4 separate regions of the Homo sapiens genome follow, and all the other regions are linked to region 1. The links come from fine-mapping of genetic effects on gene expression. A gene starts in region 1. Each other region holds a variant in brackets. All regions are shown on one strand. Distances are from middle to middle.

Region 1 (6,263 bases):
AGTCCATGAACCTGAACACATGAAAAATGAAGCTATTGAACAATGAAAAATGGATAAGCCCACATTATGTTTACATTTTAAAGCTTGTTTTTAATGGCAGCCTTTATCATCCACTGAACTATTTCATTTTGTTGTTTCTGATCTCATGACCATCCACTCATCAATACTTGAAGTGTGGGAAGAGCTACTAAACCCACACATAGTTTAATTTTTTTTAAATCCATCTGCAGAACTGCTTTATTAGCTAGATAAGAATATTTATTGAGCATTTATGTTGTGGGCATTGTATTAGTGCTGACCCAAGTTATCAGACACAGAGTAATTATTTCCATCTAAGGACAGATGCACAGACCATGGGATTCTGAACCTGGCGTGGTTGCTGCTCTGCCTCCTGAGAAGTCCAGGGTTACCTTACCTCACCTCTTAGACCTTCATACAACAAAGCCCGGCCAGAACTTATGTGGCAGGTGCACCTGCTGTGGCTCCCTGGCAGACACTGGAGCCACTAGAGGAAGTAAGCAGTGGCAGAGTACCAGGAAGGAGGTGGGGGGATGAGGTGTGTGGGTAATTTTCAGTATCTGTAAGCCCTCCCAGATTCTTCCTTCTGCAATTCAGAACCATCACAATGCATTTCCTATTTCCCATTCAGCCAGGGGCCCTCACATGCCAGAGCAGGCCCACCTGCTTCCCTGCATTTTGTATCTGTTCCATCACAGGTTTCATCAGACAAGTGACCACAGACAGACGAGACTAAGAGTTAAGACAACAGCCGGGCATCTGGCTCTTCATGCTTAAGGGTGTCCAGGGAAAACGGATGTACTACTAAAGTATCATGAGATAACACAGTTGGCAGCCTGTCACACGTGGGAATGGACACTCCTAGGTCACCATTAGTAGGCCATCCTCCGATGGGAAGGGCAGATATTCGGGGACTACTGCACATCAGCAGTGTTGTGTCTGCACCAGCACTCCTGGGCTCCATCTACACGGCTTATTAAACCAGTACCTGCAGCACTTTGGAAATCATGGCACACTGGTACACTTTATTTACTCTTCTTCTGCCTCAAATCCCTGATGACCACGGCAGGCCCCAGATAAAGGAACCAACTTCTGTGTGAGAACAGAAAAGATGCCAAAGAAGTTGCAGGCTTTATCCTTAACATGCACTGGCAAAACTCAGGAAGATGCAGGAAGCCACACAGAAGTTAGCTGGTTATGGAAGAGATGGCCAGGTTCTGGTCTATTCCCAACTCCTGCTCTACTCCTTACCTAATCGACTTCCCTAAAATAGAAAAATTAAATCCTTGTTTACTATGGATCAAACTGGAGTTGGAGAAATTTGGAGTTGGCAGAGCTAGCAATCGAGAGAAAATTCAAACTGAGCAAACTGGATATAGAAATCAGCGAAGCTTCATCTCCAATCTCCACAAACGTCATTCACGCAATTCTGTGTCTGCCCAGGAAGGGCATCGATCTGCCACCAAAATGATGCATCCGCCCCTGTGTTAAGGGGCCCGGCACTCTGCCCCGACAATCCCCCACAGGGCCCAGACAACCACTTCCAAGGCCCATCTTCTTGCACTGTTCCAACAAACACAAGTCACACCCACCCACAAACAAGCCCGTTTCAAGAAAACAAATGCCGGCGGCAACGCAAGGAGCTGCTAAAAGTTTCCAGCTGCCCTGCAGAGCTCGCTCCTGCTCAAACGTCGCTCCACTCCCGCACCATCCAGGTGAATCGGGTTGTAGTGCGTTTCCAAATACAGCAGGACCGGCGCTGGCTGTGAAAAAGTTAATCGAAAACTTCATCTTCCTCACACCCAGAGGCCTATTCTCTAAAGACGTTCTGCCACGGGAAGATTCGTTTTGGGCTGATGGCTTTGCTTACTTAGAACCCCCAAACGTCACAGGAATTTGCACCAATACTAAATTAGCGAGGGTTCCCATCATGCCCCCCAAGCCTTCCTAAAAGGCGGCCAAACTTCAGGATACCGGCTTGGAGGTGGGGGGCGCAGGAGAGGATGCCGAAGTCCTTCCCTCCTGGAGTTCAGCCAACTCAAAGGGTTAGCAGGGGCATCTCCCACCCTGAGCGCAGACTGGATGAGGAAGCCCCCACCTCAATTCCCCTGCGCCCCTCCAAAACATGGAAGGAGAGGGAGGCCGGGGGAGGGATACGGGGGAGGGATGCGGGGGAGGGGGGAGAGTGTAATTTCCCAGTTGACAGAAAGCAGGTAAATTGGGAGAGAGCGGGGTGAAAAGAGTGACAGGGCGACATCACTCTGCGGAAATTTCCCAGGAGGAAGGGGACAGCGATGGGGACAGGATCTTGGGTGGCGGGGAGGGGTCTGGGAGTTGCAGCCCCTCCAGGACCTTCTCTTCTCCCCTGTCCAACTCCCTCCCGCCGGCCCCACCTCTTGATTCCGCGGACCCAGCAGGGTCGGCCGCTCTGCCTCAGCCCTGCCGACTAAGAGGCGCCCGGCCCGGGGCCCGCAGCTGCCTGCGCCCCCGCCATCCTCCCCCGGCCCGCGGTCGTCCCGCACTCACCAGGAGCACGGAGCCGCGCACCACCTCAGACACGCTCTGCCGCAGCTCGGCCGCCGTGCCCGGCTTACTCAGCGCCCGGGTGAACTTCCGAGTCTCCGCCGAGGCGGGGAGCAGCGGCGGCTGCGACATCCTCCTGCCCCCGCCGCCTCCGCCTCCGCCTGCTCCCGCGGCCCGGCCCGGCCGCGCGGCCGCCAGGTGCGCCCTCGGCGCCCGGCCCGCTCCGCCCGCCGCTCCCGGCGCCGCCGCCGCCTGCTCCCCCCGCTGCTCGCCGCGAGTCCGGCCGCCGCAGCCCAGGCCGCGCCCTCTGCACCGTGTCACGCCCCAAGGCGCCCCCCTCGGCGTCCGCGGCCCCCCGCGATCGCAGCAGCGCCCGGGCTCGCTCCGGGCGACCGTGCGTGTGGCGGCGGCGGCTCCCCCATGCCACCAGCCTCCCTCGGCGACCACTCGCCGGGCCGCCTCCTCGGGGCGGGGTGTCCGGCGCGGCGCGGGCGGGGCGGGGCGCCCGGACGGCGGAGGAGGGGCCGCCGCGGCGGGACGGCGGGCCAGGCAGGTCGGCGCGGCCCGGCGCTGGAGCTAGGCGGCCGGACTGGCAGGGGCGGCGTGCCGCGCGGGACCCTCACTGGGGAAGGTGGGGGGTCGGGGCCGCCTCCGCCCCGGGCCGCACGTCCGAAGACCGGAGGAGGGGACTGCGCACGCCACCAAGAGGGCGCACAGCCGAGGCTGGACGATGCGCGGTTTCGGAGCAGGGTTTCCTGCCCAGGGAGCCCGGCTGCGCTCGAGGGGACCCCGAAGTCACCGGCAGGGTCGGAGCTCGGTGCACCACGCCCCCCCTCTGCGCCCGGGGCCTCTGCGGGGACAGAGGTCTCAGGAAAGTAGCCTTTATTTATGTGGCACCGATCGGAACCCGCGGCCGGCCAGGCGGACCTGGACGGAGCGTCCCTGCTCGGAACCTGGCGCGGGGCGCCGCGCGCTCGTGTGGCGCCTCGGCCTCCCCACCGTTCAGTCCCCGGAGGCACGGAGCTCGCGGCGGGACGATGACGGTTGGGCCGGGCCAGGCGTGGGAGACTCCCAGACTCCGGCCCGCCGGGACGGCCAGCTGCGTCACCTTGGACGTGGGCAATACTTCGGAGCCTCGGTTATGTCGCCTGTAACCTGAGGACAACGGCCTGGAAGGGGCTCAGGTGACACGGCGGCCCTCACTGGGGCCGATTTAGCCGGTCTGCCGCCCCTCCGCGCCGGACCGCCAGGCGGGGTACCAGGGAAACTGCGATGCGCCGGCTTGCGAGCCCACCGTGACGCAGAGCTGGCGGCCGCTAGCGACAGCCACCCTGTGAGGGACTTTCCCCCCAATACCCTAACCGCTTTCCTGTCCCTAAGGGCCCGCTCCCGCCCCGGCTCCGTTTCTGTCTCTCTGAGGAAGCCCGGCGCAGCCTAACCCTCACAGGGCCGCGGAGAGGGCGCGCCAGGCGGGGATTTGCGCCAGGCCCGCGGCGCATGCTCAGTGGTTGGGGACTGGGCGGGTACCCCGGGCGGGGAGCCTGACTGAACGGCGGCTCTGCTGATTGGTCGGGCTGCTCACGCCACGCCCGTTGCCTTCCGATGGACAGTTCCTTACCTGCCGGGTCGGCCTCCGCAGAGAGTGGTGGTCTTGAAAACCCAGTTTTGGGAGAATACCTGCCGCGCCTCCCGCCCAAATACCCAGAGGTTTCATAGCCGCCATCGCTGCGGTGGAGGAGGCCGCCTGTTGCGTCCCACCCCACCAGAAAGCCTAACACTGGCCTGAAGCGTAATCTTAAAGTGGTAGGGGAAAATACCGATCTAGCGCAGAGAGCAAAACACCTCCGTTCTGGGTTTAATGGGCAGGTCTGGAGGTGAGGTATGCCGTCCGCACTCAATAATTACTTGCAGGATCGGATTGTTTCTCCAGTGGGTGGGGACTGCAGGATGTAGCATTGAGTGAGCCTGGCAGATTGAAAGATAAAACAAGGGTGATGATAAAAACAATTACACACTAACCCATTTCCTCCTCCGTGAAATGAGGGAATGGCCCAGACATTTTCCAGACCTCTTCTGTCCTAAGAGTGGAGCTGGGTGACAGAGCAGGTGCAAGCCGGCCTTTCCCTGCCTCCCCGGGGAACGCACTCTGTTCGGTGAGAGCAACTCAGCTCGCATTGACTCCTTTCAGCTGCAGGAGTGTGGCCGTTCAGTTCTCATTTGAACTGTTGACAACAGTTGTCTTCTGAGAATCATGAGTTAGAGCCTCCCTTTAGGCTTCTGACTCCCTCAAAAGTACCAGACAACACAAACTTTTCCCCTCTTGTTACCTTGGCTCTCTAAGCTGTATCTACTTCTATACAAGGCGAACAATTTTGTCTTTTTAAATTAAAAACAACAACAAAAGCACCTAAGGTTGTAGGGTTTTATATTCTTTTTTCTTTTCTTTTTTTAAGAGCTATATGATTACAGTAGAGTGTGTGTGTGTGTGTGTGTGTGTGTGTGTGTGTGTAGTCTAAAGAACAAAATTTCAACAAATGGTTTTAAAGATCTAATTGGCTTCTATTAGCAATGCATGAACCAGGCAGCATTCTGACTACAAAATAGACGGGAGCTCTTGTGGGAATGGAAGAACAGCTGGGTTTTGTTAAGGTAACTTAAGCAGGAACAAGGGAAAAGCATAGTGCCGAAAGCACATCGGGTAACTTCAGGTTACTCTCCTTTATGGGTTAAAGCAGAGGGGGCTGCCTTAGCTGGCTCAGGCTGACTGGGCCCCGTTTGACTGGTTGCTGTGAATCTCCTGGTTTTTGGAAAACTGGCCCTTTTGGGGATTTTCCTGTTTTTTAAAATCTCTGTTTAGTTACGTGGCACCTAACACAGTGGCTTCATTTTAGTCTGGTCTGTTGGGGCCTAGTTCAGGAGCTCAGTCCAAGACAATGACCTACCATAAATTTTATTTAAATATATGTATATCTGGAAAGTGAAGAATTCCCCAAACCTACCAATTTTATCCATATCTCTACCACTCCTAAATTCTGTACTTACTTGCTGATTCAGTATATTCTAGAATTGGCAGATTTTCATTTAGGAAGCAGAGAACAACAGACAATGTGCCAACAGTAGTCACTGGCAATGTCTAACCAAGCACAGGTTCTGACAGACAAGGCGGCATGGAAACGTGAACTAAGCCCAGGAAGATGGACCCAGCAACCCAGAGTGGAGCCTCTTCTTCCTGGTGAAGTGCTGTTGATAACAAATGGGACATTCCTAGTGTTAAAGTTTCAGCAGAAACTTGGTCCCTACTGTTCTGGGTTGAATTGTAGTCCCCCAAAAGATATATTGAAGTTCCAAACCCAGTACCTGTGAATGTGGCCTTATTGGAAATAGGTCTTTGCACATGTAACCAACTTAAGGTGAGGTCCTACTGGAATAGGTGGGCCCTAATTCAGTATGAATGGTTGTTTGTTTGTTTGTTTGTTTGTTTGTTTTGACAGAGCCTCACTCTGTTGCCCAGGCTGGAGTGCTGTGGTGCAGTCTCAGCTCACTGCAGCCTCTGCCTCCCAGGAGGCTGGGATTACAGGCACCTGTCACCACACCTGGCTAATTTTTTGTATTTTTAGTAGAGAAGGGGTTTTGCCATGTTGGCCAGGCTGAGGTCAGGTCGAACTCCTGACCTCAGGTGATCCGCCCATCTCAGCCTCCCAAGGTGCTGGGATTACAGGCGT
Region 2 (6,276 bases), 21 kb after region 1:
ATCACACTTTCCTCACCTGTAAAAATGAAAAGATTGTTAAGCTCCCTTCACCTCTGATATTTGAACTCTATACTGTTCTATTAATGCCCACAGAGTTTATCTTTTCCCTCTTCATCTTCCTTCTTCTTGCCACATGCATGTCCAGCCACTCTCTTTCTACATTTACATATCACACTAGAAAAAAATTTAAAAACCAAGTTCCATCAGGTCTAAACATAGCACAACAAGAACCCCTTGAATAGGAGGAAAAATTCCAGCCCAAGATTATAGTCCTAGGGTTTGATTTTGCTTGGACTTTCAGGCAATGATTATTCAGTCTTTGCCATTGTCTAGAGCAAGGGTCAGCAAACTTTCTGGAAAGGACCAGTTAGTAAATATTGTAGGCTTTGCTGGCCAAAACGTCTCTGTTGCAACTGCTCCTCTCTGTCACTGTGGTGCTGAAGCCGCCATAGGTAATACAAAAATTGACAAGCATGGCTGTGTTCCAGTGAAACTCTATACGCATGGAAATTTGAACTTTGTATAATTTTCACTTGACATGAAATATTATTCTTCTTTTGACTTTTTTTCAATAATTTCAAAACGTAAACCATTCTGAGTTTATGGCCAATGCAAAAACAGGTAGCAGTAGAGATTCAACACAATGCCTATCAAAATTTCAACTACATTTTTTGTGGAAATTGACAAACTGACCCTAAAATTCATATGGAAATCCAAGGGCCCCAGAATAGCCAAACTAATCTTGAAAACAGCAAAGCTGGCGATTCACATTTTCTGATTTCAAAAATAACTATACAGCTTCAGTAATCAAGACTGTGGTGTTGGCATAAGGATAGACATATAAATCAGTGGAGTAGAATTAAAACTCTAGAAATAAGCCCATGAATTTATGGTCAATTGATTTTTGACAAGTGTGCAGATAAAATTAATGCGGAAAAATAGTTCTTTCAAAAAATTGTCCTGGGACACCTTGATATCTTCATGAAAAAGAATAATGTTGGAACCTTACCTTATACCATGTGTAAAAATTAACTCAAAATAAATCAGACCTAAATATAACAGCTAAAACTATAAAACTCTTAGAAGAAAATATAGGCATAAATCTTCACAACCTTGGGTTAGACAATGGTTTCTCAAACACAACACCAAGAGAGCTCAAGCAACCAAAGAAAAATTATATAAATTGGATTTCCTCAAAATGAAAAACATTGGTGCTTCAAAGGACACTATTAATAACATGAAAAGATATCTCATCAAATAGGATAAAATTTTTACAAATCATATAACTGATGAGACTTGTATTTAAGATACATAAAGAACACCTACAATTCAAAGATAAATGACTCAATTAAAAGTGGACAAAGAACCTAATTAGACATGCTCAAAGAAGATATACAAATAGCCAATAAGCACATGCTCAACATTATTAGCCATTAGGAAAATACAACTGAAAGACGTGAAAAACTATTCATAGCTAGGCACAGTGGCAGGCTTGTAATCCCAGCATTTTGGGAGGGCGAGGCAGAAGGATCACTTGACACTAGGAGTTCACAACCAGCCCAGGCAACATAGCAAGACCCCAGTTTCTACAAAAAAAATTTTTTTTAATTAGCCGAGTGTGGTGGGGTATGCATGTGGTTCCAGGCTGAGGCAGGAGGATGACTTGAGCCCAGAAGGCTGAGGCTGCAACAAGCTGTGATCATGCCACTGCACTCCAGCTTGGATGATGTCTCAAAAAAAAAAAAAAAAAAAAAAGTAAAACCATTCATACTCATTAGTATAGCCATAATTTAAGAGAGATAATAAGTATTGGTGAGGATGTGGAGAAATTAAAACCCCCATACACTGCTGATGGGTATATAAAATGGTGCACCTGCCTTGGAAAACCGTTTGGCAACTCCTCAAATGATTGAACATAGAGTTGCCATATGATCAAGCACATCCTCTCCTAATTATATATCCAAGAGAGTTGAAAACATATATTCACACACAAACTTGTGTACAAATGTTTATAGCGGCATTAGTCATAATATCAAAAAAAGGAAGCAACCTAAATGTCCATCAACTGGTAAACAGACAAACAAAATGTATTTTAACCATACAATTGAATGTTATTCAGCCATAAAAAGGAATGAAGTATTAAAACCTGCTACAACATGTATGAGCCTTGAAAACAGTATGCTAAGTGAAAGAAGCCAGTCACAGAAGACCACATATCATATAATTCTATTTTTATGAAATGTCCACAGTAGGCAAAGAGATAGAGACAGAAAGTAGATCAGCAATTGCCTAGGAGAGTGAATAGCGTGGAAAGATTGAGGGCGACAAATAAGAGGTGTAAGATGTCTTTTTAGAATAATGAAAATGACTCAAAATTGATCACGATGACAGATGTGCAAACTGAATTTTAATCAAAAGCCATTGAATTTTTCTAAAAATGAAAAAGATCTCAAATTAGCAACATAATCTTCCGTGTTAAGATACTGGAAAAAGAAGATCATCCAAAACAAACCCAAGAAAGGTAAAAGAATTAAGGCCGGGCATGGTGGCTCGTGCCTGTAATCCTAGCACTTTGGGAGGTCAAGGCAGATGGATCGCTTGAGCCTAGGAGTGCGAGACCAGCTTGGGCAACATAGGGAGACCCCACCTCTCCAAAAAGTACAAAAGTAGCCAAGTGTGGCGGCGCATGTCTGTAGTCCCAGCTACTAAGGGAGCTGAGGTGGGAGAATCGAGCCCAGGAGGTTGCACTCCAGCCTGGGTAACAGAGTGAGAGTCTGAAGAAGGAAGGAAGGAAGGAAGCAAGGGAGGAAGGGAGGAAGGCAGGAAGGGAGGAGGGGAGGAGGGGAGGAAGCGAGGAAGCGAGGAAGGGAGGAGGGGAGGAGGGGAGGAAGGGAGAAAGAGGAAAAGGAGGAAGGGAGGAAGGGAGGAAAGGGAAGGGAGAAAGGAAGGAAGAACGAAGGAAGGGAGGGGAAGGGAAGGGAGGGAAGAAAGGGAAGAGAAGGGGAGGGAAGGGAGAAAGAAAGAGGGAGAGAGGGAGGGAGGGAAAGAGAGAGAGAAAGAAAGAAAGGGAGAGAGAAAGAAAGAAAGAGGGAGGGAGGGAGGGAAAGAAAGAGAGAAAGAAAGAAAGAAAGAAAGAAAGAAAGAAAGAAAGAAAGAAAGAAAGAAAGAAA[G/A]ATTGATTAAAATCATACGTAGTGTGTTCCCAGATTACAGTGGAATCAAACTAGAAATTAGTCACTTGGAAACTAAACAACACACTTCTAGATAGTTCAGGGGCCAGAGATGAGGTCTCAGGAGAAACTGAAAAAAAAAATACATTAAATTGAATGAAAATGAAAATATAACATATCGCCGGGCGCGGTGGCTCACGCCTGTAATCCCAGCCCTTTGAGAGGCCGAGACGGGCGGATCACGAGGTCAGGAGATCGAGACCATCTTGGCTAACACGGTGAAACCTCATCTCTACTAAAATACAAAAAATCAGCCGGGTGTGGTGGCATGCACCTGTAGTCCCAGCTACTCAGGAGGCTGAGGCAGGAGAATGGCGTGAACCCGCGAGGCGGAGCTTACAGTGAGCCGAGATCGCACCACTGCAGTCCGGCCTGGGCTACAGAGCAAGACTCCATCTCAAAAAAAAAAAAAAAAAAAAAAGAAAATATAACATATCAAAACTTGTAGGACAAAGCAATTCTAAGAGGGAAATATATAAGTACTGTACTAAGTGCATATATTTTTATAGAGAAAAAAACCCTAAAATCAGTAATTTAAAATTCCACCTTAAGAGCTAGAAATAAAAAAGAGAAAAATATAGGCTGGGTGCAGCATACCTGTAATCTGAGCACTTTGGGAGGCCATAGGTCGCTTGAACTCAGGAGTTCAAGACCAGCTGAGTAACATGACAAAACTCTGTCTCTACAAAAACTACAAAAATTAGCCAGGCATGGTGGCACACGCCTGTGGTCCCAGCTACTCAGGAGGCTGAGGTGGGAGGATCACTTGAGCCCATGCAGTCAAGGTTGCCACGAGCCAATATCAGGCCACTGTACTTCAGCCTGAGTGACAGAGCCAGACCCTGTCTAAAAAAAAAAAAAAAGAAAAAAAAATTGTTTTAAAGAGCAAAATAAACTCAAAGCAAGTAGAAGGAAAGAAATAAAGTGCAGAAATCAACAACACTGAAAATAGAAAAACAATAGAGAAAAATTAACGAAACAAAAAGATGGTTCTTTGAAAAGATCAATAAAATTGACAAACCTTTAGCAAGACAGACAAAGAAAAAAGAGACAAGATACAAATTATCAATATCAGGAAGGAAAGAGAAGACATCACTACAGACCCTGCAGACATAAAAAGATAACAAGGAAACACTATTAATAACTCTACATACATACATTTGACAAATTAAAATACATGGACCAATTTCTTGGAAAAAAAAAAAACAAAAAACAAAACAAAAAAAAATGACATGCCAGGCACGGTGGCTCATGCCTGTAATCCCAGCACTTCAGGAGGTTGAGGTGGGTAGATCACAAGGTCAGGAGTTCATGACCAGCCTGGCCAATATGGTGAAACCTTGTCTCTACTAAAAATACAAAAAAAATTAGCCGGGCATGGTGGCATATGCCTGTAATCCCAGCTACTTGGGAGGCTGAGGCAGGAGAACTGCTTGAATCTGGGAGGCAGAGGTTGCAGTGAGCCGAGATGGCGCCACTGCACTCCAGCCTGGGTGACAGAATGAGATTCCGTCTCAAAAAAAAACAAAACAAAACAAAACAAAAAAAACCTACAATTCTTCCAATATGAAAAACATCATTTGAATGGTCCTATGCATAAAGGAAGCTTAATTTACAATTTTAAAATTTCCAAAAGGGAAATCTGCAGGCGCTAATGGTTTTCCTGGACAATTCTCCTAATGTTTAAAGAAGAATTAACACTAATTCTATACACTCTCTTCAGAAGAATAAAAGAGGAAGGAACAATTCTCAGGTTTTTAAATGAAGGCAGTATTCTCGATTTATTTTTACTGAAACTATTTGACGATTACAGGCTCATGCCTGTAATCCCAGCACTTTGGGAGGCCAAGGCAGGAGGATTGCTTGAGGCCAGGAGTTCGAGACCAGACTGGGTAATATAGCAAGACCCTGTTTCTAAAAAAAAAAAAAAAAAAAAAAAATTGTTGGGTGTGGTGATGTGCACCTGCAGTCTGAGCTACTCAGAAGGCTGAGACAGGTGGGTCACTTGAGCCCAAGAGTTGGAGGTTACAGTAAGCTATGGTTGTGCCACTATATTCCAGCCTAGGTGACAGCACTGAGATCCTATCTCTAAAAAGAAGGGAAAAAGAAGGCAGAAAAAAGGGAAAATCTTTGGGGCCTAGGACGGGGCAGAGTTCTTGGACTCTTCATCAAGAGTATGATCCCTAAAAGGAAAATGTAACAAATTGGGTTTTCCTCATCCATTGCTGACACTTTCCTGATATTATCAGAAGGTATCAATGGAATGTTTTCTGACAACACCAGGACTCATACTCTTCCCACGTGTGGATCTTAAATGGTTTATTGATTAAATACCAGGGATGTCCGTTGTCCAGTTATTCAACTATGAATAACAACCAAGGTCATATGTTCACAGGCAATGACCATTATCATGGTCTCTCTGTCAATAATGATTATCATGCTATCACTTTTAAGACAGATCCACATTTCTGTGGTGTAAAAATGCAGGAGGGAAATGTGCAACACAGTTTCTATTGCTATTCGTGTCTAGTGAACCTTTCTTAAAGCATAATGAATGCTATAAAACACATCTGAAGGCACTTTAGGGGATCCTAGGGTAGAATATTTCCTCTCACTCCCATTCAGCCATCCAGGGAGCGTTCCCATCTCACGAATAAAGTATGTAGTTTTCCATAAAACACACATTATCAAATAAAAGGAATACTTAAATCTAAGGTATAATTATATATAATTATATGGAACAAATATAATTATATAAATGTGTATTTTACATACACCTTATTATTATTGATTTACAAGGTTGTGATTACTTCGTTGGGGTTGCCATAGCAATGAACTTATTAAATAGAGAAATACTTTCATTTTTCAGCATTAAAAATGAATAATCAAAATCAACCATTGGACCTAATATATCCAACTCTTAATTATCTGCAATTATCAAAGATTAGTTGACCTTTGAAGATGATATACAATAGCAGCTTCTGGAAGAGAGGAGAAAAAGATTTCCCAAGGTGGTAGGACCACCACTATGGAAGGTGAGGAATGTGAT
Region 3 (5,000 bases), 81 kb before region 1:
GTCTGCTCTTCTGATGGAGGGAGGGGAGGGGAGGGGAAAGAAGAAGAGAATGGTTTTATTCAATGATCAATTCTTTCCCCAGTCTACTACACAAGCCCCTTCCAGGCCAAGGGGATACCTTGAAATTCTGTTGTGCCTAAAAGGATGGTGTGCACATAACATATTTTGTTAAATGTTCCTGCGGACAGTAAAGATGATGGTGTTGGTGAACTAGAGGCAAGAGGCTTAAACAAACACACTCAGACAGAGGTCTTCAAGCCGTTGGCATTTATTTCTTTAGCTAAGATTCTGTTTCCAGATGCACAGCAGGCTCTCCCCATCCCTGAGCACTCAGCTCCAGGCTCCTTTCCCAGCTCCTTCTCCTGTCCCTTCCAGGGCCCTTGGCTCTTTGCCTTCTGAATACGCTCACCAGGAGATCTCATCCCCTTCCATCCTTCATTACCAGACATCTGTCTGTGCTGGGATCCACACTCTAGCTATGGTCCTACTAGTCGCATCCCACTGGTTTACATGTTGTGATGCGCTAAACCTCAAACTCAAGATGTCTGGAACTGAAATCCTCCTTTCCCAATTCTTCCTGATCCATTCCTTCAGTGCTCCCACCTCAGCAGGTGGCACCCTGGAGGTGCCCAGGGCACAAATACCAACACTCTTGACTCCTTGTCTCTTATTTAACTGCCAAATCTCTCATTTAACACTCTCTTAAATCTTCTATCTCCTCCACCACCTGCTTCAGGCCACCATCACCTGTGACCCCCCAATGACCTCCTCACTAGTGTTCCTGTCTTGAGACCTCTCCTTTCTCTAAGCCGTTATCCACCCTGCAGGATAAGTACAGTATGAGATTCATTAAAAACATGAACATGTTTCTTTAAAACCTTCACTAAATGGCTTCCCTCTAATACAGGAATAAAGTTCCAACAAGACCCACCATGATATGTCCCCTGCTTACCTCTCCAGCCTCACTGGTCACCCTTCTACTCCCACCATTGTCCTACAGCCTGATAAGCCCCCTCCAGCACTGTGGAATTACTAGCAGTTCCAAGGAGCCCTCAGCTCTCCCTCCTTGGGACTTTGCTCCCTCTGCAGAAACGTCCCTCTCCTTCTCCTTCACCTGGTTAAATCCTTCTACAAGGAGCCCTGCGTAGGTGCTTGTGGTACCTGTGCTTACCCCCATCATGGCCCATATCCCACGTGGCAGCCTTATGGGCCCTCTGAGAGCAGAGATTATGACTCTTTCATATCATACCACCCTGTAATTGGCAAACATCCAATGGATGTCTGAGAACTGAAGAAAATATGGGAGGTTGGGGGAGAACAAGGAAAAGACCTCAGGATTCTCTTCCAGTTGTTCTTCAACAATAAAGAAAGCACAAGGAAATAATAAGTTACAAGACTGAGTCTTTGATAATGTTGTTACCTGTTTCTTAAGCCTAGAAAATATACAGGAAATACCAAACATCCATAAAACTATTTAGCATACAGGACTGCATCTGAGAATCCCATAAACAGTCTCACTCCACAGACTCTGCAAAGGCAGAACCTACTCAAGAAGCAGAGAAAACACCTATCATCGGCAATTGGCTCCAAGTGGTCCCTCTGCTTCTGTTCACAAGTCATTTCTACTTTGAGTCTCCTAGGATATGTGTTTTTCCTTGGCAGAGAAACAAATGCTGATTGAAACGTATCCTAGGATGAGGTCATTCATTGTTCATTGACATTTGAAAAATAGTAAAGTACACCTTTATTCAATATTCTAGTACTGCATTGACCAAAAAACTATAGACACACACACACACACACACACACACACACACACACAGTCACATGTACTTCACACACACATATTCATATCCAAACCTTCGTATACACTATAAAATCTAGTTAAGGAGGGAAATTAATTATCCTTAGAATTTGTATAATGTATAAAAGGAAAACCAGAATGTACTCTTCATCTATAAATGTACAGATATATTTCCTGCAGACATGAATAGACTTTGTTTGGAAACTCTGCTAGCACCTTTGCTTATATTTTGCTGGGACTTCTTTTGTTAGCAAAGACCGGATATACCAAAAAAAAAAAAAGAGTAGATTCAAATCAAGGTTACTTGAGGATGCAGCTGCCACGCTGGAATTTTTCTTTCATCAAAATGCCCCAGAGAGTCCACATAAAGACAAGCTTGATCTATTTTATGAACAGGCTATTTACTGAGGAAACAAACCTACAAATATAATTAACTGCTCACTTAAACCTTAACCCTTAGCTCCTGAATCTTAACCAATATGTCTCATAAGATCACTTAATTCAGCAACTTACGCAGTACAGTCTGTTTATTCTATCTTTAAATTATAGAATTTATGTCTCTCCCCAAATTTCTTGTTTTCATTTTTCCTGAATTGCAATTAAACTGACAGCTGTATAAGAACCTTGCTTTTGCAG[G/T]GCACAGAGAACACTAAAGAAAAAAATGGGGAGTAGGGGAAAAAGGAAAAGGCCTTAGGGTTTTCTTCCAATTGTTGCAAAGCCTAGTATATAAAAGAACATAAAATATAATAAAGGCAGTATCACAAACCACTGAGTAAGGAATGGATTATTCAACATGGGACTGGGAAAAATGGGTAGGAAATTGAATTAGGATCTTAACTAAACTATAAATCCAAATAAATTCTAAATCTACTAAAGCAGGGCACAGCAAACTTTTTGCAAAGGGCCAGCTAGTAAATATTTTAGGTCAGCTGATAATATTTATCAGGTGACTTTATCAGCTGACTTAAATAAGTGTCTGTCCTAATGACTCAACTCTAGCACCATTAAAGCAGGCCTGGACAATATAAAAAAACAAATGTGGCTATGTGGCAATAAAACTTTATTTACAAAAACAGACAGCAGGCCAGATTTGCCCCATAGACTTAGTCTGCTAACCCTGAGGGGAAAAGACAAATAGTAAATAAACAAACAAATTCCAAAAGAAAATACTGGTGAATATCTGATCTCAGATAGGCAAGAATTTCTAAGCATAAAGGTAATGGAAGAAACCACAGAGGAAAAGATGGTTATGTATACCATTTACATTCAAACCTCAGTTAGTAAAATAAGTACCATAAAGAAATTAAACAAAATCAAAAGGCAAATGACAAAACAGAGAAACACGTGATGAAGATAACGAAGGATTTAGAGTTTGAAAGGTGTTATCTTTTGTTTCTCAAACTGGCAAAAATGATGCTAGCCAGGATCATATATAAAAAAAGCACTAATAGTCCCTGCTGCTAGGAGTGTAACTTGGATCAGTCATCACACAATAAAACAATATGCCTTAATAGGCCTTTAAAAAATTCATTCTTCGCAAGTTCACTTTTATAAATCTAGCCTACAAAAATAACTATAGATCCACACAGATTTTTGGGTAAAGATGTCTTCTGTAATCTCGATTTATAACAACCTAAATACTGAACAACAGAGAAGTATTTAAATAAATTCCCGTACATATATTACAATGGAATACTATACATATGTTAAATCATGTTTTAGCAGAACTTTATGGGCATAAGAAAATGCTCATAATAAAATACAGTAAGTGAAAAATGCATCAGAAATTTTTATGGACAATTATCCCTTTTTTAATATTTGCAGAAGCAGAGAAAAATATCAGAAAACACATACCACAAATTAAGCAGTTTTGGTTTCTGGGCTGTGAGTTATGGGTAATTTTTGTTTTCCTCTTATTCTTCTTTGTGGTCTCTAAATTTTCTACAGTACTTATGTATTCTAAATATAAAAGACAACAAATGTTACTTTTAAAAAGCAAAAAGCATGGTGGGGTGTGGTGGCTCACACCTGTAATCCCAGCACTTTGGGAGGCCAAAGTGGGTGAATTACTTGAGTTCAGGAGTTCCAGACCAACCTGACAACAAGGTGAAAACCCGTCTCTATAAGAAATACAAAAAGTTAGCTAGGCATGGTGGTGCTTGTCTGTAGTCCCAATTACTCAGGAGGCTTAGGTGGCAGGATGGTTTGAGCCCAGGAGGCAGAGGCTTTAGTGAGCCAAGATTGCACCACTGTACTCCAGCCTGGGTGACAGAGCCAGACCCTGTCTCAAAAAAATAAAATTTAGGCCAGGTGCAGTGGTTCACGCCTGTAATCCCAGCACTTTGAGAGGCAGAGGCGGGTGGATCACGAGGTCAGGAGATCAAGACCATCCTGGCCAACATGGTGAAACCCTGTCTCTACTAAAAATACAAAAATTAGCTGGGTGTGGTGGCACGTGCCTGTAATCCCAGCTACTCGGGAGGCTGAGGCACAAGAATTGCTTGAACCCAGGAAGGGGAAGTTGCAGTGAGTTAAGATTGCACCACTGCACTCAAGCCTGGTGACGGAAGAAGACTCCATCTCAAAAAAAATAAAAATAAAAATTTAATTTAATTTAAAAATTAAAAAATAAAAAGCAAAAAGGTCACTGCTTCTCACTAAGGCCATGGGAGAAATAGAAATCAACTTCAGCAAAGCAGTAGCAGCTTTATTCATCTGTTTCTACTCAGTATTTCTGCTGCTGCTCTTTACTTCTGAATATCCATGAAATAGCTATATCAACTCTAAAAGGGTGAAGACCTCTCAGAACAAACACATTCCAGCCCCCACAATGGAACATTTCAGAACTCTCCTGGGATGTTTAAGAATGCTCATGATCATGCTTCCAGAAGCAGAGGCAAAATTAGTGCTAATTTGAACCCTGATATGACTGTGTTACTTGCCTAAGTATACAGCAATCTAAGTCACTGTATTCTGTTCAACAGGTGACCCCATCATCAACTTCATAAATAGCAATGATGAAAACAAACTGCTCGAAGTCAGAAGAGGTGAACACAAACTTTCTTATCTTGAATTTTTAAAAATCTCCAAATAATCTTTCTGGAGGGTAGTCTGGCTATACATACCAAAATCCTTTAACAAGTAAATATATTTTGAGCTAGCTACTCCAGATCTGGAAATCTGCTAAGAAAACAAT
Region 4 (5,000 bases), 32 kb before region 1:
TTTGCATTTCCCTGATGATTATTGATGTTGAGCATTTTTCCATATACCTGTTGGCCACTTGTATGTCTTCTTTTGAAAAATGGCTATTGCCCTTTTTTTTGGGGAGGTTTGTGGGGGTAGACACAGGGTCTCACTGTGTCACCCAGGCTGGAGAGCAACGCAGTGGTGCAATCATGGTTCACTGCAGCCTCGAACTCCTGGGCTCAAGTGGTCCTCCTACGTCAGACTCCTAAGTAACTGGGACTATAGACACATGCCACCACACCAGCCTTCTTTTTTTTTTTTTTTAAGTAGAGACCAGGGTCTCACTATGTTGCCCAGGCTCTTTGCCCATTTTTTAACTGAGTTGTTTTCTCACTTTGAGTTGAGTTTTTTATATGTTTTGGATATTAATCCCTTATCAGATGTACAATTTGCAAATATATCCTCCCATTCCATTGGCTGTCTCTCCACTCTATTGATGCTAATGAATTTCTAATGGTAGGTTTTTCAGGCCTCAGTAGGGATTCGCCGTTGGGATGAAGTCTCTCCCATTACTCCTTCAGTCAAACCACTTCCAGTTCCCAATTTCTTGGTTGTCTCCAGGAGCCCAGTTCCTAAACACACCTGAAAATAAAATAGATTACCACTAACATCACTCCTGCGCCCTCTCCCAGCTGCCACTGTGTTCACATCCCTACTGTCCTTTTCTATTGAAATCAGATAAGAATTATGTCCACAGTAACTTAAGCCACAGAGATTTCAAGAGCTTTGTTAAATGACAAAATTTCCTAAGCCTATACAAATTTGCAGGAGAGCAAAGAAGATAAATTTTGTCACTCTTGTTCAGAATTCTAAGCTACTATAAATAATTTCCCATGCAAATCACGTTTTGTGGCAGAAGGAAAAAACCAGCAACCTTAATACATATTTCTAAAATAGCTCATTATGCTTCTAAGAAAAAAACTTAGAATATAAATTTAATTATTCAAATTCAATATAATTTAATTAAATGTAATTGAATTAAATTGCTTTCTAAGGTATTCTTTCTGTAAGCCACTTGAACCAAGAAAGCCACCTGGTTTTATTTAAAGCCAATGGTAAGAACTTTCTGAGACAAGGAGAAACCTCTGTAACTCAGACCCTTGTACAAAAGAATTAAAGAAATTAAAACCGGGAACCAGGTTTCAGTAACTGCAGGAGGGTTCTCCTTCCTGCCAGGGCCTGGAGTGAGGATCAGTTACTGTAACCAAGAAACCTCAGACTGTTACCTGGTCCCCAGCGATAGCACAACATGTGGCCTGGGCCCATCAGATAGCACACACTTGAGGGTTATTACAAGAGGAGCGAAGCACCCCACACCCTCCACCTCCCCTCACTCACCCTCCTACTCCCAAGAAAACACCAGGAGGTTTTGGAAGCAGGGTTAATCTTGCATTGAAAAAAAAACACAAAGCAGATGGGGCTGAGTTAGTCTGACTACCACATCTCAAAGAAGATTATCTGCCTAACACGGTAAGCAAGAAAGGGGAGTCATGAAGAAGTCAAAAGCCAAAACCAGGGGTGAATTTCTGCATAGATCATTTTTCACTGTCTTCCTTTTCCACTGTAAGACACTGCAATTCTTTGCCGCATCTCAAAAGAGGAGACTCTTCTGGTGGCTCACTCTAAAATCTAGTTCATGGGGATTACTCAGGCATATTTATAAACCCAATGGCTGCAAAATTACAAATATTAGTGCTCTCACTTAGAAAAAAAACAGCCTTGGTCTAGAGTAATTAAAACATAAAAACATTACTCTCCATGCTCTGAGACCCTTAATGGGGTAATTTGTGGCCTCGCCAAAAATTTGAAAGGTGGGCTTCCATGGCCCACTATAACCTAGAGCTCTAGACCAACATAGCCTCACCCAGAATCTTTGTACATCCTAACAACCAGACACTGACACTGAGCTCACAACAGCAGAAATAATAGCAATGGTAATAAAGCAGGTTTTACAGAATAGCTGAGAAAGCCACACAAGTCCACATAAAGCAGTTAAGTCCCTAACTGTGATAAATCTAAAAACTTGGTTTGCTGTTAGTTGTTGGTTGGACAGGGTTTGAGGGCAAGCAAGAGGGAAGGCATAAGCCCAGAATCACATCTAAGTTCTTCCATTGCTACTGCCCTGCCTCAAGCATAAAGCACAATAGTCTGATGAAACCTGCTCCTCTTTTTACCTTTGCCATGTTAAGTTCTCTCTCCTAAGCTGGGAGATTCTTAACTACGCCAGTATCACCAGCAAATCAAGCACTATCACAAGCACCATCAGGCTGAAGTTAAGGGATGAGGCTGAACCTTATACCACCTTCCATCTGTGCTTGCCTTTACTACGAGAAAAATTTTAAATGAATATCCCACAGAGAAGACAAAAAAGATGGCACCTCAGTTTTAAAGTGCCTTCTTCACTTACTTTCCTAACTTAGGAGAGGTTTTCAGTCATCCATTTCACAAACCAAAGAGCTAAATCAGTCATGAATTGCTAATAGTAGAAATGAAGCAGGGAAAGAATTGCCTCATCCACTTTTTTTGCACAAAGGTTCTGCTATGAAATTTTCTTGAATGAACATATGAATGAATGGCCCATTACTCTACTACTATGGATTAGCAAAAAATAATAATTTGAAACAACCGGGGTATCTAGTTAAAGGGTACACCAGGACTTCCTTATACTATCCTTGACTTTTCATATAAGTCTGAAATTAAATAAAAGTTCCAAAAAACAGAATGGGAAGAAAATAACTTGCCCTCTGTGTAGGGTAGGGTCCCATTGGAGATTAGCACTAAAGGAACTTTCTACAAACTTTCAAAAACAAAATCTGTGTCCCCATGCGGTAGCAGGAAAAGAGGACTCCCTGTGAGAAATGAGAAAGGAAGAGGCGATTCTGTGTGAACAGGAAGTGGGAACGTCTGCGTTGGCTGGGCAGCCTCCAGTGCGGGGAAGGGGGCATCGCACCTAAGAGAAAGCGAGCCGGTGCTTAACTGTGGAGGGGACCGCAATG[G/C]GAGAAATTAGAAGAGAGGAGCAGCCAGGCGCACAGGGTCAGTTGTGCAGGGCAGAGCAGGAAGAGAGGCATATGGAATGTGGATTGGGATTTTAATGGAAAACTATATGCAGTTCTTTGTGGCCTAAGCTGTATTACTCAATTACATTGATAATATTGACTACATTGATATTATTAATAAGTTATACTATTACCATAATATTGCACACAGTTGTCAACTGTTCTCTAGGTTCCTAACAGCTGTGCCTAATAAGCCTGTACAGCCTTTCTCCAGCCTTAAATGAAGACAGACACTAGATACAGGCTAAGACAGCTTTTAACATATACTAGCTGTCTGCAGTGACTAGACCCAGGATCTGAGGCCTATGATAAATTCCTAGGCCAAAGAATCTGGGATTTTTTTCAGAAATCAGCCAAGCTTTCCAAAAGCACTGTCAGGACCAAATATCAGCTGCACTAAGCATCACAGGGACGTGGAATGGTAACAACAAAAGTGCCTTTGTAGCTGAATGAAACAGAACCTGGTCTGGTTACTGTATTCTATACCAAAGCCTTTGAAGATGACAAATTTAAATTCCACAAGGTCTTTCCAGTTTAGTGAACATAGAGAGTTTCCCTGGAAATATATATTTTTTTCCTGTAAACGGAGTGCCAAATGTTTTGATCATTTTTAGAATATATATGTAAAAAATACTTTTGAAAGTGCAATTGTGAGATGTTTCACCATACAAACTAATAACAGGCAATTCAGCTTCCCTGGCTATCCAATCATTGCTTGTTTGACATTGTTTGGGCACATTAAATGGTACTGATAAAGTTGTTTGAGAGTTTGTCTTTTAAAGCAACAAATCTTACTGGAAAACATTATCAAAGTAAGGTTACATACTAAATATGCAAAAGTATTATAAAGATACATTAATATCTTTAAAAAAGATAAGTAATATTAGTTTATACATTAACTGAGGGGAAAAAAGATATTATGTCTGTAATGATTCAACTAGGTGTGGCCCAGACTTGGCTAAAAAACCAGCTCCCAGTCACCCAGAGCAAAGAAATGAGCAACCTAGAAGTCATTTCTGGATGGATTTATGTTTGGGGGCAACAAACTCCTCCCCCACCAATTCTATTTTCTCAGCTAAAATAAATTTAATGGAGAGTACACCTGCTGGGGTGGCTGCCCGGCACCTCCCTTTCCCTGTAACGTGTTGTTTTTCTGAGATGTCCTCTTTCCCTTCCCCCAGTGGCAATCAGGGTCATTCATGCCAGGTCTGATGCAAGGCCCCCCAGGACAGGCCTTCCCTGGAGGCCAAGGAGCAGCTCCTCGCCCTGAGGAAAGACAGTGGCCCTGAGGAGCCATGCGTACAGCAGCGGGGATCCGAGAAGCCACATTCCTACAGATGACCCCATGACTTGGTATCGGACCCAATGTGGATCACCTCCCTGGGGGATTAGAGCAGCCTGAGAGAAGGACCAGTTTCTTGCCAAGTAGCTGGTCTCTCAGACAGCGAATTCCTACCATGTAGACTAGAAGCAAAGAAAGTCAATCTCCAGGCAGAGGACCCAAAAACTCTAGAGAGCAGCCGAGATAAGAGAGGATCTTGAAGGCTGGGACCCCCTCAATACACTCAGCTGGACCCCCACCCTTTAGTTCTTGGAGACATACTGTGTCCTTACAACATATATCCCTTTTTTCCTTTAATTACTTGGAATGAGTTTCTGTCACTTGCAACCAAGAGTCCAAATTAACACATCTAATTCCTAGCATACAGACAAGAAAAAATAAGTAGTAGTCTCAAAATGTTACGAGTTGACATATTGGGCCTGAAATCTTACAGCACAAAACAGGTAACCACTGAATAGGGGGAAAATGGTATTCTTAAATCTTAATTTTGAGACAATTACCCTGCCACTAAGGCACGGTAAGTCCTGGGTGAGCTGAGGACCAGATCTTCATTGCGCCTCTGATTTCTTTACTAAGCC

What was found. PIP is the estimated chance that this variant, and not a neighbour inherited with it, causes the effect. A credible set is the group of variants that fine-mapping cannot tell apart.
Region 2: its variant is the best candidate, but not a certain one, in a credible set for the expression of DOCK9-DT in whole blood (TOPMed, PIP 0.62).
Region 3: its variant is the best candidate, but not a certain one, in a credible set for the expression of DOCK9-DT in tibial artery (GTEx, PIP 0.52).
Region 4: its variant is the best candidate, but not a certain one, in a credible set for the expression of DOCK9-DT in aorta (GTEx, PIP 0.57).

What each region holds. Positions count from the first base shown.
Region 1 is chr13:99,083,679-99,089,941 of GRCh38, forward strand. DOCK9-DT (DOCK9 divergent transcript) reads left to right here and starts at 3,045. Exons shown (of 1, transcript NR_047482.1): 1 at 3,045-4,947. It also overlaps a transcript of DOCK9 not described here. RefSeq lists silencers at 2,377-2,856, 2,897-3,206, 3,297-3,356, 3,937-4,166 and enhancers at 3,047-3,608, 4,171-4,730.
Region 2 is chr13:99,104,997-99,111,272 of GRCh38, forward strand. No RefSeq gene overlaps it. Among named protein-coding and RNA genes, the nearest start is that of DOCK9-DT, 21 kb to the left of the region's middle. The variant G/A (reference allele first, on the strand shown) is at 3,171.
Region 3 is chr13:99,003,000-99,007,999 of GRCh38, forward strand. It overlaps a transcript of DOCK9 not described here. Among named protein-coding and RNA genes, the nearest start is that of DOCK9, 27 kb to the left of the region's middle. The variant G/T (reference allele first, on the strand shown) is at 2,441.
Region 4 is chr13:99,052,495-99,057,494 of GRCh38, forward strand. It overlaps a transcript of DOCK9 not described here. Among named protein-coding and RNA genes, the nearest start is that of DOCK9-DT, 32 kb to the right of the region's middle. The variant G/C (reference allele first, on the strand shown) is at 3,021.